2 linked regions of the Homo sapiens genome follow. The protein of the gene in region 1 purifies or fractionates together with the protein of each later gene. This does not show direct contact. Each region holds a gene or a part of one and is shown in the gene's direction. Other genes may lie near its edges.

Region 1 (3,811 bases):
TCTTGTTCTACAAAATTGGTCACTTTCTCCATTTGCGAATAAAGGAGTTGAGCCTGGAGGTCTTTAAGCACCTCTCCAACTGTAACATTGCACTTCTTGTTTTGTTTTAGGGTTTTTTGGTCCCAGGGAACCTCGTTTTCAGAGCAGTGGCTCACGCAGATCCTGAGCCCAGTTAATGGTCATACCTTTCCCTGAGTTTATGTTCATTCTATCCTCTGAGATTATCTTTGAAGTCTCATTACATAGATGTCTGTAAAATCCTTCAAGCTATGGACAGCCAAGGTCAGAGGCACATTTTCTCATAAGTGGCTGTTTCTAAATTCATAGGTTTGAGATACATAAAGATAAACCAGGTTCCTTTATGTCAATTTCCTTCCAGTTCTGCCCTCTGAGGACCCTGCCCTTTCCCAAAAGGGGTATCTTAAGAAGGAAAATATGGCTGCTCTTTGCCGGACAGCAGAGTCCCAGGTGAGTTGGGGATTTTCCTCTCTTCTTGGAAATTTTATTTTAATTGAGTTGGGGATTTTCCTCTCTTCTCAGAAATCTTATTTTAATTCCTGAAGCAAATTTTTTTTCTCTTAGCATGAAGCTTGTCAACCACATTAGCCACAGCAGTTTGAAAGGAAAGGATCAAGCAGGTGGGATGGACTGCCAATGAGATGGTGTTTGCGTGTTCCTCAGTTGTATGGCAGTAGCAGTGAAGGTCAGGAGGCTTGGTAGCCTCGCCCATCAGTTGGCAGTGTAGAGAAAGGATGGTAGGGGCAGGATGGGAATGAGGCCTCTTTAGCAGATAATTGAGGAGCGTGACTCCTAGAACATGGTTGGGTAAGAATCAAGCTTCTTTTTGTTCACTTGAGACATTTGGCATAGATATGCAAAGGCACGTGAGGCATTTCTTGCTTGCATCTGCTTAGAATATTTTGGGGAGAAAAGATGTACACAAATCTGTGTGGCACAAACCAGCAGATTTATTATTATTAAATAGGGCCTTATTATTAAGGGCCTACTCAATATAAAGTGTCTTAGGGAAAATGCTGTATGGACTTGGAGGAGCAGGAGCAAATGTGTCTGGCTGAGAGAGATTTAGGAAGGTTTTATTCATTCAACTAGCATTTTAAAGTCCTTTTAAGCAGCTCCTAGGCTAATGAAAGTAGTGAGATTTGATGTGGGCCCTGAAAGCTGAGTAAATTCTTGAAAGATTTATAGAAAGTTAGTGACATAAATGACTTAGAATCAAAGCAAGATACTGATTCCTCTGGCACAGGAAAAAAGTCAGTACATTGAAATCACAGAGGTGTTGTTCCACAAAAACTTAAAGGCTTCTTATACTCAAAGTTCTTTCCTAGATATAATTCTCAAGCTTGGCTTATTTCTTTTTTTCTTTTTTTTTTTTTTTGAGACATAGTCTCGCTCTCTCGCCCAGGCTGGAGTGCAGTGGCGCGATCTCAGCTCACTGCAAGCTCCGCCTCCCAGGTTCACTCCATTCTCCTGCCTCAGCCTCCCGAGTAGCTGGGACTACAGGCACCCGCCACCGCGCCCGGCTAATTTTTTGTATTTTTAGTAGAGACAGGGTTTCACCGTGTTAGCCAGGATGGTCTCGATCTCCTGACCTTGTGATCTGCCCGCCTCGGCCTCCCAAAGTGCTGGGATTACAGGCGTGAGCCACCACGCCCGGCCAGCTTGGCCTATTTCTTAGTTTCTTACTTACCATGTGTCTCTCTCAACTTAACTGAAGATAACCTTAAGGCCGGCTAAACAATAGGCTTGGGTGGGAAGGCCACATCCTTAATCTGACATTTTTTTTACAGGGCTAAATCACTTTGTTTAGTTAACAGGTGTAATGGGCCTTTATTGCTCAAAGCTCTTGTTAGACTTACTTCCCACTGTATGAGATCTAGAAACAGTTTGCTTTTCCAACCACGTGAGGCCTCAGATTTCTGCACTCTATTCTCTTTTGTTTTGGCTTGAAAATTGACACATTGTTTCCTGAACTTAACTCATTCTTTGTTCGCCAGACATATCCAGGAGCATTCTACACAAAGAGCGTTCTGGTGCTTTCCAACCTGTTCTAGAGCCACAGGCCCAGTGAGCATTTGCCCTGGCCTCATAGTTGCTAATTAGTTTGCCAGTGTATATTAAGAGTCTGCATCTGTTGGCTGGATGCGGTGGCTCATGCCTGTAATCCCAGCACTTTGGGAGGCCGAGGTGGGCGGATCACCTGAGGTCAGGAGTCTGTGACCAGCCTGGACAACATGGTGAGATCCCGTTTCTACTAAAAATACAAAAAAAAGTAGCTGGGCGTGGTGGCTCACACCTGTAGTCCCAGCTACTCAAGAGGCTGAGGCAGGAGAATCGCTTAAACATGGGAGATGGAGGTTGCGGTAAGCCGAGAGCATCGTGGCCACTGCACTCCAGCAACAGAGTGAGACTCCGTCTCAAAAAAAAAAAAAAAAAGGAGAGTCTGCATTTCTCCAGTCGTAAATATTCTTTTCTTTGAAGCTTGCCACCTGACTGTCAATCCAATGCCACCTGTGTATTTGAACTTTTTATTATGATATCTCCCACTTGAAGGTGCTGATTTCTGAATTAGTTTGGGTTGGCTTACTAATAACTGTTGTAACCAATAGACCCAAAATATATATGGCCTTAATACAATAGAAGTGTATTGTTTGCTGTCATAGCCATGTGAGTGGGTATATAGATTGATAGGATGGCCATTCAGGGACCTGAGCTACCTGAAGCTCTAGCCTCTTTACCATATGGCTTCCAAACTCACTCTGGGGCTCATGGCCCTACCAGCCAGTCAGAAGGGGAAAACAGCATGGAGGAACATACGTGAGTCAGGCCTGGAAAGGGCGCACATCACTCCTGCTTGCATTCCATTGGTTAGGATCTCATGGCCAGGTCTAACTACAGGAGGTTGGGAAATGTTTGTATACCTAGAAAGGAGAGGAGGAGGCATATTTTCATGGACAGTTAGCAGCTCGTAGCACTGTTCTCAAACATTTAGGTTATTTAGAACGATTTTGCTATTTTTCTATTGTAAGGTATAAATAGATGTGATTCTTTGTTTATAACTCTCCATATTTCTGATAGTTTTCTTTTTTTTTTTTTGAGACACAGTCTCGTTCTGTTGCCCAGGCTGGAGTGCAATGGCGTGATCTCGGCTCACTGCAAGCTTCGCCTCCCGGGTTCACGCCATTCTCCTGCTTCAGCCTCCCGAATAGCTGGGACTACAGGCGCCCACCACCATGCCTGGCTAATTTTTTTTGTATTTATAGTAGAGATGGGGTTTCACCATGTTAGCCAGGATGGTCTCGATCTCCTGACCTCGTGATCTGCCCACCTCGGCCTCCCAAAGTGCTGGGATTACAGGCGTGAGCCACTGCACCCAGCCGATAGTTTTCTTATAATTGAGTTCTGTATATAAAATTACTGTAAAACAAAACTATCAAATTATGTCAGAGGGGTATACACATTTTAAGATTTTAAGATTCTTTAATATACGAGTCAATAAAATCTTGTCTTTGACACTGTGAACATAGTTTAATCTATTTCCTCTCCATCCCATCAGTCTCCCCTAAGTATGCCTCATGTAACTTTTTCTTCAGAACCCCATGCAGGTGTTTCAGGGCTTTATGTCATTCAAGGATGTGGCTGTGAACTTCACTAGGAAGAATGGAGAGAACTGGACCTTGCTCAGAGAGTCTTGTACAGGGATGTAATGCTGGAGAACTATAGGAACCTGGTCTCCTTGGGTGAGCTTGGGTCCTTCCACCCCAGATTGACCTTTCAGGATACCTTTGCCTTC
Region 2 (4,274 bases), on another chromosome or scaffold:
ATACTTAAGCTTTCTCATTTGTAAGTTGAAAATAATACCAAACTCCAGGGTTTTGTGAGGATAAAGTGTTTGGCACAATGTAAAGCACAGAATAAATGCTCAACACACATGAATACTGCCATAAACATTACTTCGCCTTCCTGCAGACCAACTCCGACTCTGCATGAAACAGAAAATCAGAACATTTATTTGGTACTAATCAAATTTCTTTTCATAATCTTTTACGGATAGACAATACCATTGTATCCCCATTTTAAGAGGCAGTCTTTCAGTCTTTTCAAAGCATAACTTTGAAGCCAGAATTGCCTCGGTTAGATTTCTTCTTATTATTATTATGATGATTTGAGACGGAGTCTCGCTCTTGTTGCCCAGGCTGGAATGCAATGGCACTAACTCCGCTCACCCGAACTCGGCTTACAGCAACCTCCGCCTCCCGGGTTCGAGCGATTCTCCTGCCTCAGCCTCCGAAGTAGCTAGGATTACAGGCATGCACCACCACGCCCGGCTAATTTTGTATTTTTAGTAGAGACGGGGTTTCTTCATGTTGGTCAGGCTGGTCTGGAACTCCTGACCTCAGGTGATCTGCCCGCCTCGGCCTCCCAAAGTGCTGGGATTACAGGCATGAGCCACGGTGCCCGGCTCTTCTTATACTTATTATTTGCTTGCCTTAGACAAGTAACTTCACCTCTCCAAGCCTGCATTCTAATGCAAAACGAACACCAATACCTATTTTATGAATTATTGTAATAATTAAACGAGGTAATACCATACCTGAAGTATCTTTAATGCAGCAGATGTCAAAAGTGGTAGCCGCAATTATTTTTATTTTGTAAGGGAGGATTAAACACATTTAAATAGGACATCACAGGAGCGGAGCTGGATCCCAGGTCAGCCTGATTCCTAGGCCGGCGTTCCTTATTGATTACAACATAAGGCAAACAAGTCGTCTTTGGAGAGAGAGGTTGGGGAGAGAAGAATGTTTAATTTCTCCATGCCCTTCAATGACATGTATAACCTTCACTGTTGACCATTTGGCCAGATTGTTGAATTATGTTTTGCTCTCTGGCAACTTGGGGTGTGGAACGTACAATAAAAACGCCTTCACACTAATAACCTCCAGGCCTGTCCCCAGGATTCTACAGCATGAGCTTTGTGGGTAAAGAGAGCTCACCAAATTCAGCCTCCAGCAGCACACACAGCTCAGTAGCAGCGCCCCGCCCAGATGTTTATATTTTCCTCCATCGGCCCCGCCCCCCGACCATGAGGGGCTCTAGCCACGCCCCCAAGCTCAAGTTTCTGGGGCCGGACTAGCCCAGCGCGTCTGCCTACCCATAGGGATTCCCTCTCCAGCCAATCCAGTCAGAGCAGCGGAGCTGCCCCGAACAAAGATGGCGCGGGAAGCGTCTGTGAGGGCAGACTGATCCGAGCACCCAAACCCTCGGCGGACAGCGGAGCCAGTGGTAGCCGCACGGCCCTAAAACCATGGAGGAGGGCGGCAGCACTGGCAGTGCTGGCAGTGACAGCAGCACCAGCGGGAGTGGCGGGGCGCAGCAAAGGGAGCTGGAGCGCATGGCTGAGGTCTTGGTCACCGGGGAACAGCTACGGTAAGGCAAGAGACACAGCGGGTGAGCTCACGATGGCACTGCCAACGCGTGCCCGCTGCAGTCCTGCGCGCACGCGCTCCCTGGCTCGTGGCTTGCGACTCGCGTGGGGCGCCGGAACGGCTGCGGGCGCGTGGATGGTCCTCGGTGCGCCCGCGCTTAGCTGCTGCAGCCTCGGTCCCTGAGGACTCGCTCGCCAAGCGGGGCTGCCTGGCAGAAGCCGACGAGCGGGTGGTGCGCGCTGCGCCCTAGCCTGGCTGCTGCAGTCCTGTGCCGGGCAAAGTCCCTGCCACCCACCGCGCTGTCCGTCTTCCCGTGTACCTGGACGCCGCCAGGCCTCCCGGCTGACAGCCTGCGCCTCATCCGCGAAGAGAGCAAGAGGGGTCGCTGTGGGGTCCCGAGGCGACCCCAGCCCCTCTACTCCTTGATAAAAGGAGCAAGACCAACGATAGTCTTCACTAGGTTTTCCTTTTTGCTGACAAGTCTTCCTTCACTCCCCTGAGCCTCGGTGTTTTACATCTGTAAAACAGGGCTGATTCAAGGGCTTTTTGTGAGGTTAAACTGAGAGAGCATTTCTGAAACCCTGCACCTATCAGTTAATTGGCACATCGTCCTCAATCATTTGGGTCCGCAAGGGGGCGTGGAGGCACCTTGTCGGGCTGCCTTGAGGCTGTGCCAACTCCCCGGGCTCGCACGTTTTGGGCAGCAGGATCCATGGGGACCCTGGCTCCTGCAAGAATTAAGACTTGCGGCGTCTCACGGAACTTGGGAACAAGGACGACCCCCAGAATCCCCCTTGCCATTCCCATCCCTGTATGGTCCTTCCTCTAGGGCTGTTTGGGAATAGTACTTATGGTCTAACTGGTTCTGCAGCTGCCCTTCGTGTGGTTATAAATCAGTTTGCCAGGAAAAAGAAAACCCAGCTCTGCAGCGTTTGAGCCACAACTTGTACGCGGGCCCCTGTTACTTCTAGTTCTTAGCCTGAATTCCCCAGCTTGTTTTGGTTTCTAAATGTCTGTGTTTCAGGACCTGAAAGAGTGTCTTGCAAAGGTCTCTGAAGGAGACCAATATTGGAAGTCAGAATTAACTGATTTTTAATGTTACAAAAGGCAAATTGCACCTATCGATTCTTTGTTGATTTTTAAAAATACGTGGTCAGAATTAAAGGGAATAAAAACTTTTTTTCCTTCATCAAAAGTACTTTCTAATGAAACCTGTCACGCGGTGCCCGTGTGAAGAGACCACCGAACAAGTTTTGTGTGAGCAATAAAGCTTTTTAATCACCTGGGTGCAGGTGGACTGAGTCTAAAAACGGAGTCAGCAAAGGGAGATGGGGAAGGGGTTGTTTTATAGGAGTTGGGTAGATGATGGATAGTGGTGTAAGTTTGTGAGGTGCAGTCCAAGAAGGCGGGGGTGACTTCATAAAGCCCTGTTGTAAAGAGTAGAGTAAGGAAGAAGAGACCTGATATCCCTTGGAGAATAAATGTTGAAGGAGCAGGAGGGTGTCTTGCTGAGAAGATTCAAAGGAGAGGCTACAAAGTAGAAGGTCATCAATATATTGAATAAGGTGAGAAGCAGAGGGGTAGAAAGAAAGTAAATCATGAGAAAGGGCTTGGCTGAAGTAATGAGGGCTGTTCCTGAAGACTTGCGGCAGTACAGCCCAGGTAAGCTGCTGGGACTGATGGGTGTCAGGGTCAGTCCAGGTAAAAGCAAAGAGAGGCTGGGACGAGGGGTGCAGGGGAATAGTGAAAAAGGCATCTTTAAGATCAAGAATGGAATAGTGAGTTGTGGAGGAAGGTATTGAGGACAAAAGAGTGTACAGGTTTGGCACCACAGGGTGGATAGGCAAAACAATTTGGTTGATAAGGTGCAGAACCTGAACTAACCTGTAAGACTTGTCCAGTTTTGGGACAGGTAAAATGGGGGAATTGTAAGGAGAGTTTGTAGGCTTTAGAAGCCCAAGCTGTAGCAGGCGAGTGATAACAGGCTTCAGTCCCTTTAAAGCCTACTGTGGGAAAGAAAGTTTAATTTCTCTGCTCTTCATTACTGGGCCATCTTTTTAAAAGTCTTCTGTTGGATAGGGTTACTTATTTTTCATTTATTTTACAAATATTAAATTGCATGATGGCTCTTTTTGTCCAGCAAGTACTTTTTCCTTCAAGATGCAGTTTAAATGCCTCTTCCTTGCAGTCCCCAGAGCACTTGTTATTCCCCACTTTTCTAGCGCCTCTCTGCACTGCAGCAGTTTTGAGAGCCATCCTTGTCATGCAGGAATTAGACCTGGGTTTGAATGACTGCTCCACCATTATGTAGGCAAGTGTCAGCATTAAGTTGTTTCAAGGAAGACTTTAAGCTAGACTGAATCTTGGCTTTGCTACTTACTAGTGTGGGACCTTGGACAAGTGATTATGCCCGTAATCCTGGCCCTTTGGGAGACCAAGGCAGGCGGATCCCTTGAGGTCTGGAGTTCAAGACCAGCCTGACCAACATGGTGAAACCTCATCTCTACTAAAAATACAAGAATTAGCCGGGTGTGGTGGTGCATGCTTGTAATCCTAGCTACTTGGGAGGCTGAGGTGAGAGGATTGCTTGAACCTGGGAGGCAGAGGTTGCAGTGAGCCAAGACAGTGCCACTGCACTCCAGCCTGGGCAACAGAGTGAGCCTCCATCTCA

What was found.
Region 2: the proteins of TRIM16 (region 1) and DEPTOR purify together in Homo sapiens (affinity purification with western blotting, with the first as the bait; one study listed by BioGRID). This does not show direct contact.

Annotation. Positions count from the first base shown.
Region 1 is NC_000017.11:15,677,522-15,681,332, reverse strand, and holds part of TRIM16 (tripartite motif-containing protein 16), read left to right. Parts: intron 1-379; coding exon of another isoform or gene 380-468; intron 469-3,611; 5' UTR 3,612-3,758; intron 3,759-3,811.
Region 2 is NC_000008.11:119,872,365-119,876,638, forward strand, and holds the start of DEPTOR (DEP domain-containing mTOR-interacting protein), read left to right. Parts: upstream 1-1,357; 5' UTR 1,358-1,482; coding exon 1,483-1,604; intron 1,605-4,274. UniProt on the Homo sapiens protein: Negative regulator of the mTORC1 and mTORC2 complexes: inhibits the protein kinase activity of MTOR, thereby inactivating both complexes. DEPTOR inhibits mTORC1 and mTORC2 to induce autophagy.